Linked DNA regions of Homo sapiens: region 1 is linked to region 2. Evidence: fine-mapped expression QTL. A gene starts in region 2. The other region holds a variant in brackets. All regions are shown on one strand. Distances are from middle to middle.

Region 1 (11,180 bases), 92 kb after region 2:
GCGGGCGGATCATGAGATCAAGAGATCATCAACATAGTGAGACCCCCATCTCCACTAAAAATACAAAAATTAGCTGGGCTTGGTGGCGCATGCCTGTAGTCCCAGCTACTCGGGAGGCTGAGGCAGAAGAATTGCTTGAACCAGGTAGGCGGAGGTTGCAGTGAGCCAAGGTTGCGCCACTGTACTCCAGCCTGGGCGACAGAGCGAGACTCTGTCTCAAAATAAATAAATAAATAAATAATAACATAAAATTTAAAAAGTACTGGAAGCATTCTTAGCAATGTCTTGAACGTGGCAAGGATGCTTTATATATGCTCTATAATGCTATATTGCTGTGAAAGTTCTGGACAATGCAATAAGACAAGAAACACAAATTAAAGGACAGCCACTAAAAAGGAGACAAATTATCCTTACTTGTGGATATTATAATTGTCCACTTGAAAATCCAAGGGAAGCAAATGAAAAACTATTAAATAATGAAAGCATTCTACCAAAGTAGCCAGTTGTAAAATCAACATACAAAACACCCACAGCTTTCCCCTCTCCCTCCCTCCTCTTTTTTGCTATCAGATTGATTGTGTTTCTTTATTTCTCACCTTTTCCCTTTATTGGTTTGAAAGTTACACATTCCTTTTATGCCTTTTAGAGATTATCTTTAGGTTTTTATCATGCATAAAATTTTTTAATAATCTTCAGCTGGGCACAGTGGCTCACACCTGTAATCCCAGCACTTTGGGAGGCCTAGGCAGGCAGATCGCCAGAGGTCAGGAGTTGAAGACCAGCCTGACAAACATGGAGCAACCCCATCTCTACTAAAAACACAAAAAATTAGCCGGGCATGGTGGTGGATGCCTGTAATCCCAGCTACTCAGGAGCCTGAGGCAGAAGAATCGCTTGAGCCTGGGAGGTGGAGGTTGCAGTGAGTCGAGATCATACCATTGCACTCCAACTTGGGCAACCAGAGCAAAACTCCGTCTAAAAAAAAAAAAATTGACTTATAATCAAAATCACTATTTTTCACCCTCCTGCTAGATAGTACAAGATCTTGGAGTGATTTGACTCCAGTGACACCTTCCAAACACTATATTATGATTGCCTAATATTTAGTTCCACCTTTTCTTTATTTTTTATTTTTTTAGAAACAGGGCCTTGCTATGTTGCCCAGGCTGGAGTGCAATAGCTATTCATAGGCTGCACCCCAATACTGATTAGCACAGGAATTTTTACCTGCTCTGTTTCCAACCTGGGCCAGTTCACCCCTCTTTGGGTAACCTGGTGGCCTCCTGGCAGGTCGTCATATTGATGCAGAGCTTAGCACCAGCACCCAACTGGCATAGTCAACTTCAGCCCAGAGCTCCTGGCCTCAAATGATCCTCCTGCTCCGCCTCCTGAGGAGCTGGGACTACAGGCATGTGCTACTGTGCCCGGCAGTTCCACCTTGTTTTAATCCACCACTGGTAATTATGATTGTTGATTTTACGGCCAGCTCTTATTTAGATTTTACCCATGTTTCCATATCTCCATTCATTGCTTCTTGCAGAATGTGCTTGGTACAGGGCTTGATTCCCTTCTTCCTTAGGTCATCTTTTACTAGCTCTTTCAGCAAAGAGCTGTGAGTGGTAAAGTTCCTCAGTCTTTGTCTGAAATGTCTTTATTTTGCCCTTGCCCTTGAAAGACAGTTGAGCTGAAAGACAGTTTTGGTTGACAAATATTTTCCTTCGTCCTCTTGAAGAGATGATAATTACATTTTTGTCCTCTGTCATTGCTGATGGGCTTCGCTGTTTCTTTGTGGGCTTCGTGCCAGTGGTGAAGGCATGTGTCCTGGACTCCTGAGCTGCCTGGGTCCAAGTCCTGGCCCTGCCATTCATCATTTTGTGAATTTGTGCCTGGTTATCTACAGTCACAATTCTGCAATTTGGATTGGGCTCAGCTGGGCAGCTCTTCTGCTAGTCTTGCCTGGGGTCTTTCACATGGCTGCTCTCACCTGCGGTTTGAATGATATATTCGTTTGCTAGGGCTGCCTTAACAAGATACCACAGGCTGGGTGGGTTAAAAACAGAAAGCTGCTGGGCACGGTGGCTCACACCCGTAATCCCAGCACTTTGGGAGGCTGAGGCAAGAAGACCGCTTGAGCCCAGGAGTTTGAGACCAGCCTGGGCAACATGGTGAAACCCAGTCTCTATAAAAATACAAAATAAAACCTAGCCAGGAGTGGGGGCATGCACCTGTGGTCCCAGCTACTCAAGAGGCTGAGGTGGGAGAATCACTTGAGCCCCAGGAGGTGGAGGTTGCCATGAGCCGTGATCGTACCACTGCACTGCAGTCTGGGCGATAGAGCAAGACTCTGTCTCAATATAAATAAAATAAATAAATAAATAAATAAATAACAGAAAGGTATTTTCTCACAATTCTAGACGATAGAAGTCCCAGGTCAAGATATTGGCACAGTTGGTTTCTTCTCTCCTTGGCTTACAGATGCCCCTTTCTTTCAGCATCTGCACACAGTGCTTGCCTGTGTGCTAATCTCTCTTTTTTTTTTTTTTTTTGAGATGGAGTCTTGCTCTGTTGCCCAGGCTGGAGTGCAGTGGTGCCATCTCGGCTCACTGCAAGCTCTGCCTCCCGGGTTTACACCATTCTCCTGCCTCAGCCTCCCAAGTAGCTGGGACTACAGGCACCCGCCACCACGCCCAGCTAATTTTTTGTATTTTTTAGTAGAGACGGGGTTTCACCGTGTTAGCCAGGATGGTCTCGATCTGACCTTGTCCTCGTGATTCAACCGCCTCTGTCTCCCAAAGTGCTGGGATTACAGGAGTGAGCCACTGCACCTGGCCCTAATATTAGTCACATTAGCTTAGGGCCCACCTATATGACCTCGTTTTACCTTAATTATGTCTTTAAAAGCCCTCTATCGGCCGGGCATGGTGGCTCACGCCTGTAATCCCAGCACTTCGGGAGACCAAGGCGGGTGGATCACAAGGTCAGGAGATTGAGACCATCCTGGCTAATACGGTGAAACTCCATCTCTACCAAAAATACAAAAAAATAGCCAGGCATGGTGGCACGCGTCTGTAATACCAGCTACTTGGGAGGCTGAGGCAGGAGAATCACTTGAACCTGGGAGGCAGAGGTTGCAGTGAGCCGAGATCACGCCACTGCACTCCAGCCTGGGCGACAGAGCGAGACTCCGTCTCAAAAAAAAAAAAAAAAAAAAAAGGCCCTCGATCCTAATAAAATCACATTCTGAAGTAGTGGGGTTAGGACTTCAACATGTGAATTTGTGGCAAGGCAGGGGGGCAGGAAATGATGTAATTCAGCCCATAACACCTGGGGTGGAGGGTTCTAGATGAACTCACTGCTATGCCTGGCAGGTGGTGTTGGCCATCTAATGGGTGGTTCCCTTCCAACAGAATCTACACTAGGCTTCTTTTTATTTTTTATTTTTTGAGATAGGGTCTCACTCTGTTGCCCAGGCTGGAGTGTGGTGGCACAATCACAGTTCACTGCAACCTTTGCCTCTAGGGCTCAAGTGATTCTCCCGCCTCAGCCTCCCAAGTAGCTGGGACCACAGGTGTATGCCACCAGGTTTGACTGATTATTTTATTTTATTTTTAGTAGAGACGATGTCTTGCCACGTTGCCCAGGCTGGTCTTGAACTCCTGGACTCAAGCAATCCACCTGCCTTGACCTCCCAAAGTGCTTGGATTACAAGTGTGAGCCACTGTGCCCTGCCTACACTGGGCTTCTTGTCGTGTAATTGTTTGTTCTAAGATAGCAAAGGTAGAAGTCTTGCAGCTTCTTAAGGCCTGGCTTTGAAAGAGGCATAACATCATCTCTGCTACCCTCCATTGGTGAGATCTCAAGGCCATTCCAGATTCAAAAGGGGTTGAAAAGGACTCAGCTTCTCACTCTGTGGCAAGAGTATCCTCTTAAGGGGAGGAGTAGCAAAGTCATAGGGAAGTGTGATTTTTGTTTTGTTTTGTTTTTGTTTTTGAGACAGAATCTTGCTTTGTCGCCTAGGCTGGAGTGCAGTGGTGCGACCTTGGCTCACTGCAATCTCCGCCTCCCGGGTTCAAGTGATTCTCCTGCCTCAGCCTCCCAAGTAGCTGGGACTACAGGCACCCACAACCATGCCCAGCTAATTTTTGTATTTTTAGTACAGATGGGGTTTCACCAAATTGGCCAAGCTGGTCTCAAACTCCTGACCTTGTGATCCGCCCACCTCGGCCTCCCAAAATGCTGGGATTACAGGCATGAGCCATTGCGCCTGGCCGATTTTTTTTTTTTCTTTTTCAGACAGGATCTCATTCTGTTGGCTCAGGCTAGAGTGTAGTGGTGCAATACAGATCCCTACAGCCTCGACCTTCTGGGCTCAAGCAATCCTCCCACTTCAGCCTCCCAAGTAGCTGGGACCACAGGCGTATGTCACCACACCCTGCTAATTTTTGTACTTTCTGTAGAAATGGGGTTTCATCATGTTGCCTAGGCTGGTCTCGAACTCCTGAGCTCAAGCAGTCTGCCTGCCTCGGCCGCACAAAGCGTTGGGATTACAGGTATGAGCTACCACGCCTGGCCAAATTCTTCAGGGGTCATTATTGTAACAAAAATTAAGTAGCATTAACTAATAAAGATTACTTAAGCTTTTTGTCGCTTGATTTTTTCATCTTTAAAATGTGGATAATAACATTAATAGTTGGCTGGGTGCGGTGGCTTAAGCCTGTAATCCCAGCACTATGGGAGGCTGAAGCAGGTGGATCACTTGAGGTCAGGAGTTCAAGACCAGCCTGGCCAACATGGCGAAACCCTATCTCTACAAAAAATACAAAAACTAGCCGGGCCTGGTGGTGCGTGCCACCAGTGGTCCCAGCTACTTGGGAGGAGGTGGAAGGATCACCTGAACCTGGGTGGTCAAGGCTGTGGTGAGCTGTGATCATGCCACTGCACTCCAGCCTGGGTGATAGAGTGAGACCCTGTCTCAATAAATAAAATAAAATAAAAATAACACTAATAGTGTTGTTTTGAGGACTTAAAGAGTCAATGTACTCAGAACACCATTATATGTCTTTATTATGGATGCTGTTAGATAATCTCTTCTTCTTTTCTGGTTTAAGTCATTTTCTTTGTCTTTAGGATTACATATTTGGTATAGATAATTGGGTTTGGTTCACTATTATTTATCCTTCTTGTGGTTGATGCATTTTTTTTTTTTTTTGCGCCACTGCTCTTGGCTGACTTTTTAATTTTTTGTAGAGACGAGGTCTCACTATGTTGCCAGGACTGGTCTCAAACTCTTGGGCTCAAGCTATCTTCCCACCTCATCCTCCCAAAGTATTGGGATTACAGGTGTGAGCCACCGTGCCCAGCCTGATGCACTTCTTAAATTTGAGGAATTGTGTCTTTCATCAATTCTGGAATATTCTCAGACATTATCATGCTGAATATGATCTCTTTTCCATCCTCCTTATAATCTATCTCTTTCCAGGTCTTCTCTAAGCCATATGTTGGACTCTTTTATTCTTTTCAATGTGTTTCTATTTTTATTATTTATCTCTTTATCTTTGTTTCTTTAAAAAAATTTTTTTAGAGGCAGCATCTCACTCTGTTGCCCAGGTGGGAGTGCAGTGGTGTGATCACAGCTCACTGTAACCTTGAACTCCTGGGCTCAAGCAATCCTCCTGCCTCAAGCCTCCCCAGTAGCTAGGACTAAAGGCATGTGCCACCACACCCAGCTAATTTTTAAAATTTTTTTGTAGAGACAGGGAGTCTTGCTATGTTGCCCAGGTTGGTCTCAAATTCCTGGTCTCAAGTGATCCTCCTGCCTTGACTTCCCAAAGTGCTGGTATTATAGGCATGAGTCACTCCATCTGGCCCTCTTTATCTTTGTGGGCTACATTCTGGGTAATTTCCTCAGTTCTGTCTTTCAGTTCATGAACACTTCTTCAGCTGCGTCTTATCTGCTATTTAACCAAGGCATTGAAATTTATTTTCAGTGGCTACGGTTTTCCTTTCAAGAAGATCTTTGTTTTTCCTTCAACTTTGCCTCTTATTTTTGTTTGTGTTGTTTTCTTTTCTTTTGTTTTCTATTTTTGAGACAAGGTCTGGCTCTATCACCCAGGCTAGAGTGCAGTGGCGTGATCTCGGGTCACTGCAACCTCTGCCTCTCAGGCTCAAGCCATCCTCCCAACTCAGACCCCTGAGTGGCCGCTGGGACTACAGGCGCTCACCACCATGCCTGGCTAATTTTTATACTTTTCATAGAGACAGGGTTTCGTCATGTTGGCCAGGCTGGTCTTGAACTCCTGACCTCAAATGATTCGCCTGCCTTGGCCTCCCAAAGTGCTGGAATTATAGGCGTGAGCCACTAGGGCTGGCTGCCTCTTTTTTCATGGTGTCTTTTCATTTTCTTATTTTTTTTCTTTTAATAATTTAAAGCACACTTCTTTTGTAGTCTCTTTCGGAGTGTGCTCTTATCCCAATTTCTTGGTGGTCTAATCCTCTTCTTGTTTTGTCTGCTGACACTCCCTGTTGAGGATCAGTTCATTTTGCGGTTTGCATTTTTAGCTGTGAGCTCCTGTTCAGCGAGGATCTTGCTTTTTGTTGGGTTCTCAGCTACAGAATGGCTTCTTGCTCCAGTTGCCTCCTCCCAAACTCCAGTACTGGGTGATCTCCCATTTTTTCTTTCAAGATCAATTTTTTTTTGTTGTTGTTGTTAAATTTTGTCCATATTCCTCAGCAGGAGCAGTGTCAACATTAGCTCAGTCTGCTAGGTTAGGTTAGTCAAATTTAATAGATGATAAAGACATCATTTAAAATCAGTAGGGAAAAGATGAGCTATTTATTAAATGGTATTAAGACAACTGTTCAATATCTGGGGGCGGAGGGAGGCTGTTAGCCTTAACATACACCATAACTAAAATAAATTGCAGACAAAACGAAAACTTAAATATAAAAGTGGAACTATAAAAGTGCTAGATGAAAAGAATGTGATGGGAAAGGCCTGTTTAATTATTCAACGGATGGTAAAATCCTCCTGAAGCTTTGCTACGAAAAAGTTTGAAAGTTATGTACATGGAAGAACTACGAAAAAAAGCCCTAAAAAGTAAGTGACCAATTAAGAAGATATTTACAAGAGATGATAAAGGCTCAATATCCTGCATCTACAAAGAGCTCTCACATATCCATTAGAAGACAGTGAATACCTAATAGGGACATATGCAAAGGACATGAATTAGTAATTCACAAAATAAGAAATAAAAAAAGCCAACAAGCATATGAGAGTAGGTTCATCTTCACTAACAACAAAAGAAATACATGTTAAAACAAGTTATCCTTTTACCCTATCAAATTGGCCAAAAATTTCAAAAAGATTAAAATATCCTGTGTGGTGAAGGAAAAGGGGTTCTACAGAATCCCTCTTCCCTTGGTCTCAAACTCCTGACCTCAAGCAATCCTCCCATCTTGGCCTCCCAAAGTGCTGGGATTATAAGCAGGAGCCACCGCGCCTGCTGTCTTATTTGGAAAAAGGTACATTTTGTCAATGTAATTAAGGTAAGAATTATTTATTTATTTATTTATTTTGAGATGGAGTTTTGCTCTTTTTGCCCAGGCTGGAGTGCAATGGCGCGATCTCGGCTCACTGCAACCTTCACCTCCTGGGCTTAAATGATTCTCGTGCCTCAGCCTCCTGAGTAGCTGGGACTATAGGCGTGCGCCACCACATCCGGCTAATTTTTTGTACTTTTAGTAGAGATGGAGTTTCACCATGTTGGCTAGGCTGATCTCAAACTCCTGACCTCAGGTGATCCACCCGCCTCAGCCTCCCCAAGTGCTGGGATTATAGGCGTGAGCCACCACTCCCAGCCAGGATTTTTTTTTTTTTTTTTTGAGTCAGGTTCTCACTCTGTCATCCAGGCTGGAGTGCAGTGATACAATCATAG[C/T]TCACTGCAGCCTCAAACTCCAGGACCAAAGCAATCCTCCCACTTCAGCCTCCTGAGTAGCTGGGAAAGCAGGTGTGTGCCACTATGTCCAGCTAATTTTTCTATTTTTTGTAGAGATGGGGGGTGTCACTGTGTTGTCCAGGCTGTTCTCAAACTCCTGAGCTCTAGCAATCCTCCCACCTCTGCCTCTCAAAGTGCTGGGATTACAGGTGTCAGCCACCTTGCCTGGCCAAGTTAAAGATCTTGAAATGAGGAGGTTATCCTGGAATAAGACACTTGGGGAGAAGACAGACAGACAGATAGAGGAGGAGACTGGAGTGATGAGTCCACCAGTCAGGAATACCAGCCCTGAGAAAAGCTGGAAAATGCAAAGAAGCATTCTTCCCTCTAATCTTGGGAGGGAATGCAGCCTTGATGACAGCTCGATGTTGGGCTTTGAGCCTCCAGAGCTGTGAGAGAATGAATTTCTGTTGTTTTAAGCCATCGAGTGCGTGGTCATTTGTCTGACAGCCCTAGGAAGCCAATACAGAGTGTCATCGGGACATTTTGGAGGGTAATTTGGCAGAATGTAGCACAGGCCCTAAAACGTGCATCTCTTTCCTTCTAGAAATTTCTCAAGATTAATAATTGAGAATTTGTCAAAGATCCCTTAGCAAGGACATTCACCGCAGCCTTCTTCTTTAAAGGAAGTTGAGTAAACAACCTATATGTTCAATAATAGGATGGATTGAATAAACAATTGTTTAGCTGTATAATGATAAAGATTAAAAATAATCATAGCCACAGCCAATAGTGTGCTTTCGACGGACTCCACATGAAAGGAGTGCTTCCTGCCCGTTTTCTTATGTAATTCTCACCACAATGCTATAACGCAGGCTTTAGTAACCCCATCTCCCAGAAGAGGACCACACTGAGGTCAGAGGGTGTAGCCACCAGTCCAAGGTCACATAGCAAGGGGCCAAGATTCTGACCCTAACCCTTGTGCTATGCCTTTACCACCCAACAAGACAGATCATGGTGCAGCCTTCAGATACCAAGATGCTGACGACAGGTCTTTACACAGAAGGATGTCGGTGGCATAGTGTTGGGTGGAAAAAGCAGTCGAGCACGTACCATTTTTGCAAAAATAAAAAGCACATTCAGTGTGCAGAGAAAAAAAGCCTGGAAGGATTTACTGTGCACGTTAGCAGGGAGGTTACCTCTGGGGATGGATTCAGTGATTTTTATTTTCTACAATGAGCACATACAGCTCTTGTCGTCAGGGCAAAATATTAAAAGACAAAACAGCGCTGGCGGTTGGACTGACCACGCCTGCCTCTGAGGTGGTTCTGGGAGGTGAGAAAGAGCCCGCTGCAGCCCAGCCGGCCTGGACCCCGGCGTCTGGCTCTCCCCTGCCCTTGGTCTTCTCCCCAGCACTGTCCGTACCTTCCCTGCACCTGTGCTTCTGCGGGCATCGATTTTTCCATCCTTCAGAGAAGCGCCTGAGGAAAAGGAAAGAGCATCTTCGGATCAATGAACACAGCCCTGCAGCCAGGGGTGGGGGTGGCCGCGGGCCGCGCCTGCTTGTCACTGCCGGGTCCAGGATTTGAGGGGGGCTCAGCGGGGGAAGGCGAGACTGGCTGGGCTGCCCAGGGCGGCGAGTGTGTGTGTGTGTTGGGGGGCGTGGGGAGTGGTGGAGGGTAGGTGTGGTGGGGGTCTATGTGAGGTGTGGAGTCGGGGGGTTACATACACGTGTGTGGTGGGAGATGGGTGAGCATCCAGGGTTGCATCAGGGAGGGGGTGTCGTGGGCTTCCTCCGAGGGGCTGCTCTTTGCCTAGAGGAGCAAGGAGCGGTGCAACCTCCTCTGTGAAACACAGTCTCCCACTAACTCAGTTCACAGCTCTGTGAGGAGGGGCTGGTACACACCCATTGCCCAGATGGGGAAACCGAGGGCTGCGTGTGTTCGTGGTGGGGGCGGGGAAGAGGTGGATGGAGAGGGCAAAACGGCATTGTTTGTGTCAACTGCAGAACAGAATCTTGTATTCAAGAGGCAGTCTCGTATTTGAAAGGCACTCACCTGTTCTGGGCACTGGGAGATGAGTGGGTGGGGACAGAGAGGGGGCAGCCGAGGCTCCCTCAGGAGCTCACAGTGGGTGCAGGGGGTGGAAAAGGAATGCTCCTGGGCCTATCGGGTCAGTAAACCCAGACTCTACATTTGCTAGGCCTGTCTGAGCCTCACCCCAGCCTCTTCTTTCCTGGCCAGATCCCTTCCCGACATGTCATGTGCCCAAACCCTGGACCCCTCACTCCTGCTCATTCCGGCAGCCCCCACAGATGGCTCTCAGGCCCCAGAGCTCTCTGTGCTTCTGTTCCAGGGCAACAGGAACAAATGCCCTACGAGAGCTTAATTCCCTGCTTACCGTCTGCTCCCCTCCCTGCCCCCGGTCTAGTCTATGAGCTCCTCTGGGGCAATCGGGCTGGGACTGTGGGGCCCTCCTGGCTCAGTCTGCATTGCCCGTTGCCTGGCCTGGCACCAAAAATGGCTCAACATACATTTATTGCATGAATGAATGAACCATGATCATTGCTAAGGAAAGAAATGTGCAGATGGCCTGCTTTGGGGTTCAGTGTGCGTGTACTGCGTTGGTGTCCACGTGCACGTGCAGCATGTGTGTACCCCTAGGCACACACGTGGTGTGTTGCATTCATGTGAATCCATGTGTGTGTGTTTGTGTGTGCACGCACATGCATACAGTGCTTGCTTGTGTGTGCAGGTGTGCGTTCACATGTCCATGCCAAGGTGCATGCATTTTTATATGCCAGCGTGTGCATGTATATGTTTACCTGTGCACACTCTGTGTGCAAGGAGTTAACATATCTTTCTCTCACGTTTTGCTCTCCCCCTGACCTGCATCCTGCAGCCTACCTTTCTGCCTTGTATTTTTTGAGACAGGGTCTCACTCTGTCATGCAGGCTGAGAGCAGTGACACGATCACGGCTCACTGCAACCTCAACCTCCTGGGCTCAAGCCATGCTCCTGCCTCAGCCTCCCAAGTAGCTAGGACCACAGCTGTGCGCCATCACATCCAGTTAATTTTTTTCTTTATTTTTTTTAATTAACTACTTTATCACAAACAAATACTTTGCTTTTTTTGGCGGGGGCGGGGGGCGGCGGGGAGAAGGATATCATTAGTTACAGCATCTGACTTTGCCCTGTACATGGTCCAGAAAATGCAGGTTGCATCCAGCTTGCAGGGCATCCGAGG
Region 2 (9,574 bases):
CACACAGAAGCTAAAAGACCCTTTTAAAATGCAAGTCAAATCCCATCTCTTGCCGGCTCAGAACCCCCCAGGGGCTTGCGGAGAGGAAGATGCAAAGTCCTAGCTGCTGCCCACCAGGCCTGACTGACCTACGTGGCTGACCCCATCACAGGCCCCAGGAAGGCAGGGCTGTGTCTGTCTGGTCGTGGGTGTCTCGGCACCCAGGCCATGCATCGGTACATATTTGATGGATGAATAAGTGACGGATGGGTGACTGCGGCTTCCCTGGGAGGCTCCGCCCTGCCTTGGAACCCAGCCCAGCCCAGCCTCCGCGCTTCCCTGCCTGCCTGGGCCTGCACCTGGCCAACCCCCGCAACAACCTCCACCAGGTGTGCAGCCTTGAAAACTGTTGGTTCTGGTTGCCAACTCTCCTAGCAGAGAGGGGTGCTCCAGGGACCAAGGGTCTGTGGTACCTGAGCAAATCTCTTCTAGCTGCCCTGACCACCCTCCTGTGGGTCCCTCTCCTCCATTTCCCCCACCTGGTGGGTGGGGCTGAGGGAGCAGAGACCACGCCCCCAATCCAGCCACACTCTTCTTCCAGCCAACCAAGCACCAGAAAACCAAGATTTGCACAAAGAGCTGGTGGCCTGGGAGCAGGTCCCTCAGGCTCCTCACATCTGCCCTGCAGAAGGGGCAGACATTGTCTCATTCTGGGAGTCACTCATGGTACCGAGATCAAACCCCCAGGTAACCCCCACACAGCCTTGCACAAGCCTTGCTTCTCACTTTGGACATCTACATTGCACCACTTGGGGTCGTCATTTGTAGCCAGCGAGGTGACCTGGGTGGGGGCAGAGCTGGATCTAGAACCCCCCCCCCGGTCCCTCCCCTGGGCAAGGGCCCCACATTTCCTTTTCCAGTGATGCTCCCATGCCCAGAATCTTTCTGGACTCCAGCTGCAGAATGGCCATTCATCTCGGGTTTCAATTTCCCACCTGCCCCTTTGACCTCCCCAGGCGGGGAGCGGGGGCCTTGGCTGGGCTTGTCGCTGGGGCTTGGGGGCAACTCGCCCAGTGAGAACCTGCTACGTGCCAGGTGCGCCTCTCACCCAGTCCTCACAGCAGCCCTGCATCTTCACAAATGAGAAAACAGGCCGGGCGCGGTGGCTCATGCCTGTAATCCCAGCACTTTGGGAGGCCAAGGTGGGTGGATCACCTGAGGTCAGGAGTTCCAGACCAGCCTGGCCAACATAGTGAAACCCCGTCTCTACTAAAAATACAAAAATTAGCCGGGTGTGATGGCGGGCGCCTGTAATCCCAGCTACTCAGGAGGCTGAGGCAGGAGAATCACTTGAACCCGGGAGGCAGAGGTTGCAGTGAGCCGAGATCGTGCCACTGCACTCCAGCCTGGGCGACAAAGGGAGACTCTGTGTTAAAAAATAAATAAATAAAAGAAAAGAAAACAAAGAAGAAAGGTCCCTGGTTAGGGCCACGGGGGGATGCAGCAGGGCCCATGGCCTGGGAGGGGGTGGTGGCTGGGCGGTGCCAGGATGGAGAGATACATCTGTCTTATAAGAGTGGGCAGACAGGCCCTTGTTCCAGGAGCTGAAATGAAACAGAACTGTGTATATATCTTCTCATCTATAGACTAAATTAAACTAACTCATAGAAATAGTCTGTTTTAAGTTTCTTTACTTAAAAGTATCTTACACGTTTAACACCTGCCAATACACGTATGTACGTGATATTCAGTAATGATCATTGCAAACTGGGCACGGTGGCTCATGCCTGTAATCCCGACACTTTGGGAGGCTGAGATGGGAGGATCACTTGAACCCAGGAGGTTGAGGCTGCAGTGAGCTGTGATGGTGCCACTGCCCTCCAGCTTGGGTGACAGAGCAAGATCCTGTCTGTAAATAATAATAATAATAGTAATAACTGCGACCACCTATACAAATTTCATCTATACATCCCAGGTATTGTGCACCCTCCATACAAATGTATGAAAATTCACAGAAAGCCTGTGCTTGGTCAGTGCTATCATCAGGCCTATTTGGCAGATGCAGAAACAGGCTCACAGAAGGGAAGTCACTTGCTGAAAGCCACATGGCTGGCACGGGGTGGCACTGAGACTTGCACCCAGATCTGGGCAGCATTAAAACCCCTGCCCCACCCGTGGTCCTCTCCTGTCTCCGTGTTAGCGTGGAGCCCTGAGATGTTTTAGGAGCCGGCTTTCCGATTTCCATCTGTGTTTGTGGTGATTGCCCTGATCTTTCAGGCATTCTGCCCTAGAAAGCCCCTTGGGGAGGGGGCTTCCTGTTTCACCTGCTTGGACGTGGCTTTGGAGCTAAGACCGAGAGGAGTCAAGGTGGGATTCCTCGGATGCCCTGAGGGAGTGCGATGGGATGCCTGGGGGCTGCTCCTCCAGCCTCAGACACTCCTGCCCACAGCCCCTGGCCAGGCCCTGCCTGAGCCACTGCTCTAGGCTGCAAAGGGCTGGCTCTCATTTCCTAATTCATCCTGCCAGCTGGAGCCAAGGTGGACTCTCCCCATAGACTGGGATGAGTGCCCTGGCCCAGCTGGACCTGGTGGTGGCTATGAGCCCCCTTGTGTCACCTTTTCCCTACCCAGGGCTCATCACAAGCTGCAGGGGGATGCTCTTGGGTCTCAGGGAGAGTGGCCTGAGTCCCCCGGGGCTTCTGAGTGCATCCAGGCTGCTCTGCTGACCCTGGAAGGCAACCAGGGAAGCTGTGAGGTCAGGGTAAGGGATGGGCCTCAAGAGCGGGTCATGGCCCAGCTGGGGCCTGTGTGGACAGAGGCCTCACTGTCTCCACTGCATGCAGGGAGTCTTGAGGCCAAGTGACACATTTGCCACCTGTGACATACGCCACCAGCCCGTGTGTCTGTGCCCCAGATACAGCCAGCCAGTGCAGAGTGAGGCCTGCCAGGGCCCTGTGTTGTGGGGATGTGACAGAGCTGCCAGTCCTGGTGCAGGTGAGACGTCACCGCCATCCCAGCTGGTCTCCACCTGGAGGACAATTTGGGGACCTCCTGGCACCCTCATGCGTTCCCTCCCCCTTGTTCTGCGTGACTGCCTGTTTTAATTCACATGTCCCTTTCTAAGACTTACAACTGCATTTCTCATAAAGGAAATTATTGGCACAGGGGATAATTGTGATCCAACTCTCTGGCTTCACTTAGAAATCGAGAGGGTGGTCAGTGGGGTCCCACTTACGAGAAGTTCCGGATGGCAGAACAGTACTACAGACATCATGGTCCTCAGGAGGATGCTGTCCTGCCCCAGAGAGGCCGCCGAGGGCTGGCGGAGGGGACCTGGAAGGCAGGTGGGGTTGACTGAGATGTGCCAGGTCGGGAGGGAATCCCAGGGCGGGGACCCTAGAGAAAGCGTGGCACATCTGTGGAGAGCGGACGGGCCACGCTGGGAGTGGAGGGCTGAGGGCTATGTCAGCCCGCTCCAGCAGGAGGACATGAGCCAGGCCTGTCCAGAGGGCTTCTGCAACCTCTTCTGGAAAAAGGACCAGGGAGGTACCTGTTTCATGCCCAGGAGGTCATGATAGTGCCTATCAGCGTTAAATGCCATCTGGTCCTTGCCTCGCAAGGAGCCCTGTCCCCTGGTTCACTGGCTTAGGGGTGCCCCTCAGGTCAGTGTTTCCCCAGTGTGGGGTGGGCACCCTCGGTGACCTAGGAGACAGTGACGTCAGGGATCACACAGCCTCATACCACACAAAGGTGATTCCCTTCTCTGTCTCAGCCCTCTGGTCCCCTGGAGGGGAAGCTTGCAACTCCCCAACGCTTTTCTATCAAAATGCCATCGGCAGGCAACAATAGCCAGCTAGAATTTCCTAACATTGCTTATTTTAATTGTAATTTATTTTTACTTTTACCTTCTATTTATGGCCCATGATCTTAGTTTTTTTTCCACCTAACAGTAGTCACATAAAGTTCCCTTATGGATGCATTTACCTAAGTAATAGCAGTGAATGCTTTTAAAGAAAAATAGAGAGCAAATAACAGAATAAGGTGCCACTGGAAGGGCCGGGTCAAGAGGAGGGGGTGGACGGACCTGTGGGTGGCACTGGCTTTTCGTAACTCAGGAATCAGGAAGTGTAGTTGACACTTGTTTTGTTATGTTTGCTCCAATGGAAAAGGAAGCTGTGGGTGGAGACACATCTGACGGGAGGGATTTGGATCCTGCCAGCTCGTCCCTGCAACCCCCTACTCCGGTCCCCTCAAACCTGTCCGTGGCTGGCAGCCCTGTGATACCTCGCCACATTCTGCAACAGAATCCGAGATAGAGGTAGAAGTGGGGGAGTACGTCGTGGCTGTCAGGGCAGCTTTCTGTAAAATGCTGCCTGGAGGAGCATGTGATTCCAGACCCTCCTCTCTGCAACGAAAGTGAGGTTGACACCTGCAGGTATGATTGTAACACGACTTTTAGTTCAGGTGAGCGCAGCCTTCCTCTCCTGGAGCTCTGGCTCATCCAGCCCTGAGCTCCCCAGTCCAAGGCTCTCCGGGTACCTTGGGCAGCCTCCCTAGCAGGGCGGTGGGATCGGACCAGCTGTTCCCGGCTGCTGGTCCGTTCCAAGCTGCAAGGGCCTAGGTGCGGAGCAATGACCGGCAGGCCGAGCTCCCTCCCTCCCTCTCGTTGCAGGCCTGGGGCCTCCTGGCCCACTGAGCAGAACACACAGAAGCTGGGCCCACCCCTGCCCTCCCCACAAAGGGTCACGGGAGCCACCGCCTGACTTTGAAGCCCACTGACTTGCGGCTGACAAGAGAAAAGGTATTTGGAATTAAGTGAAGGGCGGGAGGCAGGGGCGGGCTAGGCCCTGGGGTCACATAGCTGCAGGCACCTTGACTGCAGCTGCCGTTGGCCCCAGTCCCTTACTTTCTAGGGTTCTGCAGTGGGCCAGAGAAGGGACTATTATTATTATTTCATAACATTTCATCCTGGCTTATTTCTAGCCCCTCAAACGGTGTCCGTACAGGGTTGAACTGCCAAGGGCTCCCAGACCCCTGCTGCCAAGGGGCGGCTGGCTTGTGGTGGCTCTGGGGAGGCAGTGGTGCCCGTCACTGGCACTGGGGAATCTTGTCTGACTTCCCTTTTCCTCCATCTCCTCCCCAGGGCCCGGCTTTTCCTGTGCCCTTCATTTTCCTCCCCCTGTTCTGGGACTTGTGGGTGTCCCCAGAGCAAATTCTTGGGGAGCCATGCCCAGCCGGTCTAGGGGGCACTCAGGGGCTTGCATTTTGTCAGGCTCCCTCGTGGTCTGGTGTGGGTACTCTGGGGACCACATTTGGAGAACCTGGGCCCCCCAGTTGTTAACTAGCAGACGAGGGCCTGTACTTAGGGGCCATTGTCCAGCGTTTAGTGCAGAGTGACTGGAGAAATGGGAGGACCAGACCCTGTGATGGGAGTGAGGGTAGGGGGCACAAGATGGGCCGCCACCCTCCAGGATCTCCTGGTTCACACCAGTGCCTGCGAGAGGCCCCTGGGGCCTCGTGAAAGCACAGGTGGCTGGTTGCATCCCAGGGGTTCTGATTCCCAGGACTGGCCAGGCCAGAGAATCTGAATTTCTGACAAGTTCCTGGGCAAGGCCAATGCTGCTGGCCAGGAGGACCACCCTTTGAGAACCACAGGTGGACACCAGCAGCCGCAGACCCGGCTAGGACCAGGGCAGAGGCCACGCCCTCCCCATTCCCCCGGAGCTGCCTCGGCCCTTGGAGGAATGAGCAGGACCTAAACAGGAACCACGTGATGATATTGACGTGGCACCTGCATGGGAGCACTGCTGCCTGTCCACACTGAGTGCGGCTTCCAAGACCACCCGCAACACACACAGCCCTGCAAGGCGGGAGCTCACGTGCCCCTCACTTTACAGGCGAGAAAGCTGAGGCTCAGAGAGGGCAAGTGACCTGCATAAGGCCACACAGCCAGCAAGTCAGGGAACGGGTGGCCAAACCCAGACCTGCCCAGTTTCATGTTCGCGCCGTGAGGGGTCCAGCGGCTGTGGTGTCACTTCTGGTTACCCCGTCATTTAGAGGGGAAAGATGTGGAGAAATAGGAGTGTGTGTGGCAGGAAGGGACTGGGGGAGAGAAAAGGGCCCAGGAATCAGGCGTGCGTGTGGCGTTGAAAGGAGCAACAACTCAAAGTCACGCTCAAGGTCATGCTTAAGGTCATGCTCAAGGTCATGCTTAAGGTCACGAGTTCACCCCAGGAATCCCGCCCTCACTGGAGCTGAAGCAGACCCCTCCCCCAGGCTTCAGGGGTCTCCTGTGGCCAGGTGATCCCCTCCCCGTCAGCACCCCAGGGCACACAATGACACCTGATATTCCGCTAAACAGGACACTTCAGGGTGGAGGTGGGGCAGGGGGGTGGTGGGAGGCCGCAGTACTCAGCCTTTGCTCCCATGGGCCCAGCACCCCTGGGTGGACCTAGAGAGGCTCTGGGCACCCAGGTCTCAGGTCTGGCCTCAGAGCAGAGCTTTGGGCACCTCTTCCTCCACATCCACACCTGCTCCGTGCACACCTGCCCCGGGTCCTGGGTCTGGCAGCATCTTGGGCTGACTGTGGAGGGCCTTTGCTGGGCTTGGCAGGTGGGCATCAGGATGGGTAACTGCAGAGAAGAGGGAAGGGGGTGGTCTGAGGGCAGGGGGTGGCCTGAGGGTGGCCGGAGGAGTTCAGGAAGAGCACTGGAGCACGAGTCTCCTTTAGGGGACTCACCTTCTCTTTCTGTAAAGGGAAGGGACAGGGCTGGGTATCCTGAGGGGCACTGGTGGTCTTATGGGGTGGGGACATGGTGGGAAGGGGCCTGGCCCGCTCTGGTCTCCAGCCTGTGTCCCAAACCCACCTCCCCTTGGAAGAGGTCCCAGGAGTCGCCAGCACCTGGTTCTGGCTGGGCTGAGAGAGGCTGTGTCTGCTGCACCTGGAGTTGCAGGGCCAGCCACGGTCTGTGCACGTGGACCCCTTGAAGCGCAGAGGCTGACGCATGGCGAGTGCTCGTTAAACATCACCTGCATGTGATTATTAGTAATAAAATGTCTTAGAAGCTGGAGGGACTGAGAAGGGCCTTCTAAGCATGACAGACGTCTGTCTAGGTTGGGGTCCTTTTCATCAGGAGGGACCTGGGAGCCAGGTACCCTCTGCTCACAGGTAGTAATGCAAGAGGCCTTGTATTTTCTCTTCCTTTCCAGGCACTGAGGGCTCGCCACAACCCCCTGTGTATTTATCTTACAGAATGTGCCCCTGTGATCATGTGAAAGCATCAGCCAGGGGTCCAAGAACTTCCCTCTGGAGCCTCACACTCCCAGCGTGGCACCCAGCAGGGAACAGATTCTCTCCAAACCTTTGTGAATGAATGAAGGATGACGTCACTAGAATCCATCCCTGTTTTATTTTTTATTTTTATTTTTTGAGACAGAGTCTCGCTCTGTTGTTGCCCAGGCTGGAGTGCGGTGGCACAATCTCAGCTCACTACAACCTCCGCCTCCCCGGTTCAAGTGATTCTCCTGCCTCAACCTCCTGAGTAGCTGGGATTACAGGCACCCATCACCACGCCTGGCTAATTTTTGTGTGTGTTTAGTACAGACGGGGTTTCACCACGTTGGCCAGACTGGTCTTGAACTCCTGACCTCAGGTGATCCGCCTGCCTCGGCCTCCCAAAGTGTTGGGATTACAGGCGTGAGCCACCACGCCCATGCCCATCCCCATTTTATAGACAAGGATACCAAGGCTCAGAGAGGGGAAGCCACTTGCCAAGGACGCACAGGAGGACACCAGTGAGCAGGACCTCTGGTCTGTCTGGGAGGCCACTGGGCCTCTTCCCAGAGTCTCTGCTTGGTGAGCCAGGATTTTACACCCGCCTTGGGCCCAGTGGGCTGAGAGGACATGGGCTGGGGTGTCGGAAGCTGCAGAGCTGATCCCTCCTGCTTGGCTGGAGGCTTGCAGACCCGGCAGGCAGGCTCGGGAGGCAGCGGGCGACTTGAAAATGCACTCCCTACCACAGGCTCAAGAGTGACGGCGCCTGTCAGGGACCGGGAGGCAGGGCCTGTCTTTTCCTGCTGTTTTATTGCCTTCAAAGTCTGGACCAAGTGGTTTCTGGATGGAGTCACGGTAACCTCACGTCTATTCAAGCAATTCGTTCATTGTTTCATTTAGTAAAATACCCACAAAACAAGGAAGAACACCTTGGCGGTGCCTCTGATCCCCCCATTTGTCTGCAAATCGGAAAAGCATGATTCCATCGATCTCCTGTTTATTGAGCGCCTACTACATGCTAGGTCGGATGGTCTAGTTCAACCCCTCGCAACGCCACAGCTGCTGTCTGTTTCGTATCTTGTATTTTTCGCTTGACAGTTTATCATGTGCATTTTCTCGGGTACCAAAGGCCCTTGTAAGAGATGGTGTCTGGAGAATGGGTATCTCAGGGGCCTACCACCTGGCTTACCTCCTCCCAAATCAGGGTTCCTCTGCACCACCTCCTCTCTGTCCAGCTCCTCCTTCAGGGCCTGGCTCAATTCTACCTCCTCCACAAAGCCCTCCATTCCCTCCCCTCCTGGTCAGTGTTGTCTCTTTTGCAGCCACTAGCTCTCTGCCTTGCCTCACCCGGGTCTCCTATCCCTCTCCTTCTCTCTCATGGAGTGATGCCTTTTTTCTTCCTCTACACACATCAGGTCTGAGCTCAAAGTCACCTTGTCAAAGGCCCTCCCAGGACCACCCTGTGTGATTATCCTGTGGGCTTGTTCCTGTGTTTGTCCCTGAGCCCACAGGGTCTGGTGGTTCAGTAGAAGGACTCCTGCAGAAGGTGCTGGATAAACACTGGAAGATCTAGAAATAAAAATAAAAGAAAGACTGGGCGCGGTGGCTCAGGCCTGTAATCCCAACACTTTGGGAGGCCGAGGTGGGCGGATCCCCTGAGGTCAGGAGTTCGAGACTAACCTGGCCAACATGGCGAAACCCCATCTCTACTAAAAATACAAAAATTAGCCAGGCATGGTGGCATGTGCCTGTAATCCCAGCTACTCAGGAGGCTGAGGCAGGAGAATCGCTTGAACCCGGGAGGCAGAGGTTGTAGTGAGCTGAGATCGCGCCACCGCACTCTAGCCTGGGCGAAAGAGTGAGACTGTATCCCAAAAATAATAAAATAAAATAAAATAAAATAAAATAAAATAAAATAAAATAAAATAAAATAAAATAAAGCACACTCAGTTAAATATGAATGTCAGATAAGTACCAAATAACTTGTGAGTATAAATGTATCCCAAATATGGAATGGAATACACATAGTAAACATTTTTTTTTATTATCTCAAATTCAAATGACACTCAGCATCTTGAATTTAATCTGACAACTCCACCTCCTCCTACCCTCTTTGCCCCTTGTCAGGCAAGCTCAATAGCTAGGCCGAGAGCTGCTGAGGGCGGGGACCTTGTCTGTCTAGGCCACTGCTGTATGCGTGCCTGGCCCTCAGCAGGGAACCTGACATGAAGCACACGCTGGATAAATAAATACCTGTTGCTGGAGCGAGTGATGGGTTCCCAGCCCTCACTGGGGAATCGAGGGGACTCCACCTCAGCCCAGC

The links. PIP is the estimated chance that this variant, and not a neighbour inherited with it, causes the effect.
Region 1: its variant is fine-mapped to the expression of LINC02975 in spleen (GTEx, PIP above 0.99).

The regions. Positions count from the first base shown.
Region 1 is chr9:129,369,033-129,380,212 of GRCh38, forward strand. It overlaps the pseudogene RN7SL159P. Among named protein-coding and RNA genes, the nearest start is that of LINC01503, 38 kb to the left of the region's middle. The variant C/T (reference allele first, on the strand shown) is at 7,935.
Region 2 is chr9:129,278,280-129,287,853 of GRCh38, forward strand. It overlaps LINC02975 (long intergenic non-protein coding RNA 2975), which reads left to right and starts at 4,137. Exons shown (of 3, transcript NR_121587.1): 1 at 4,137-4,413; 2 at 4,651-4,779; 3 at 7,231-7,440. RefSeq lists enhancers at 1-569, 6,427-7,400, 7,401-8,374, 9,316-9,574.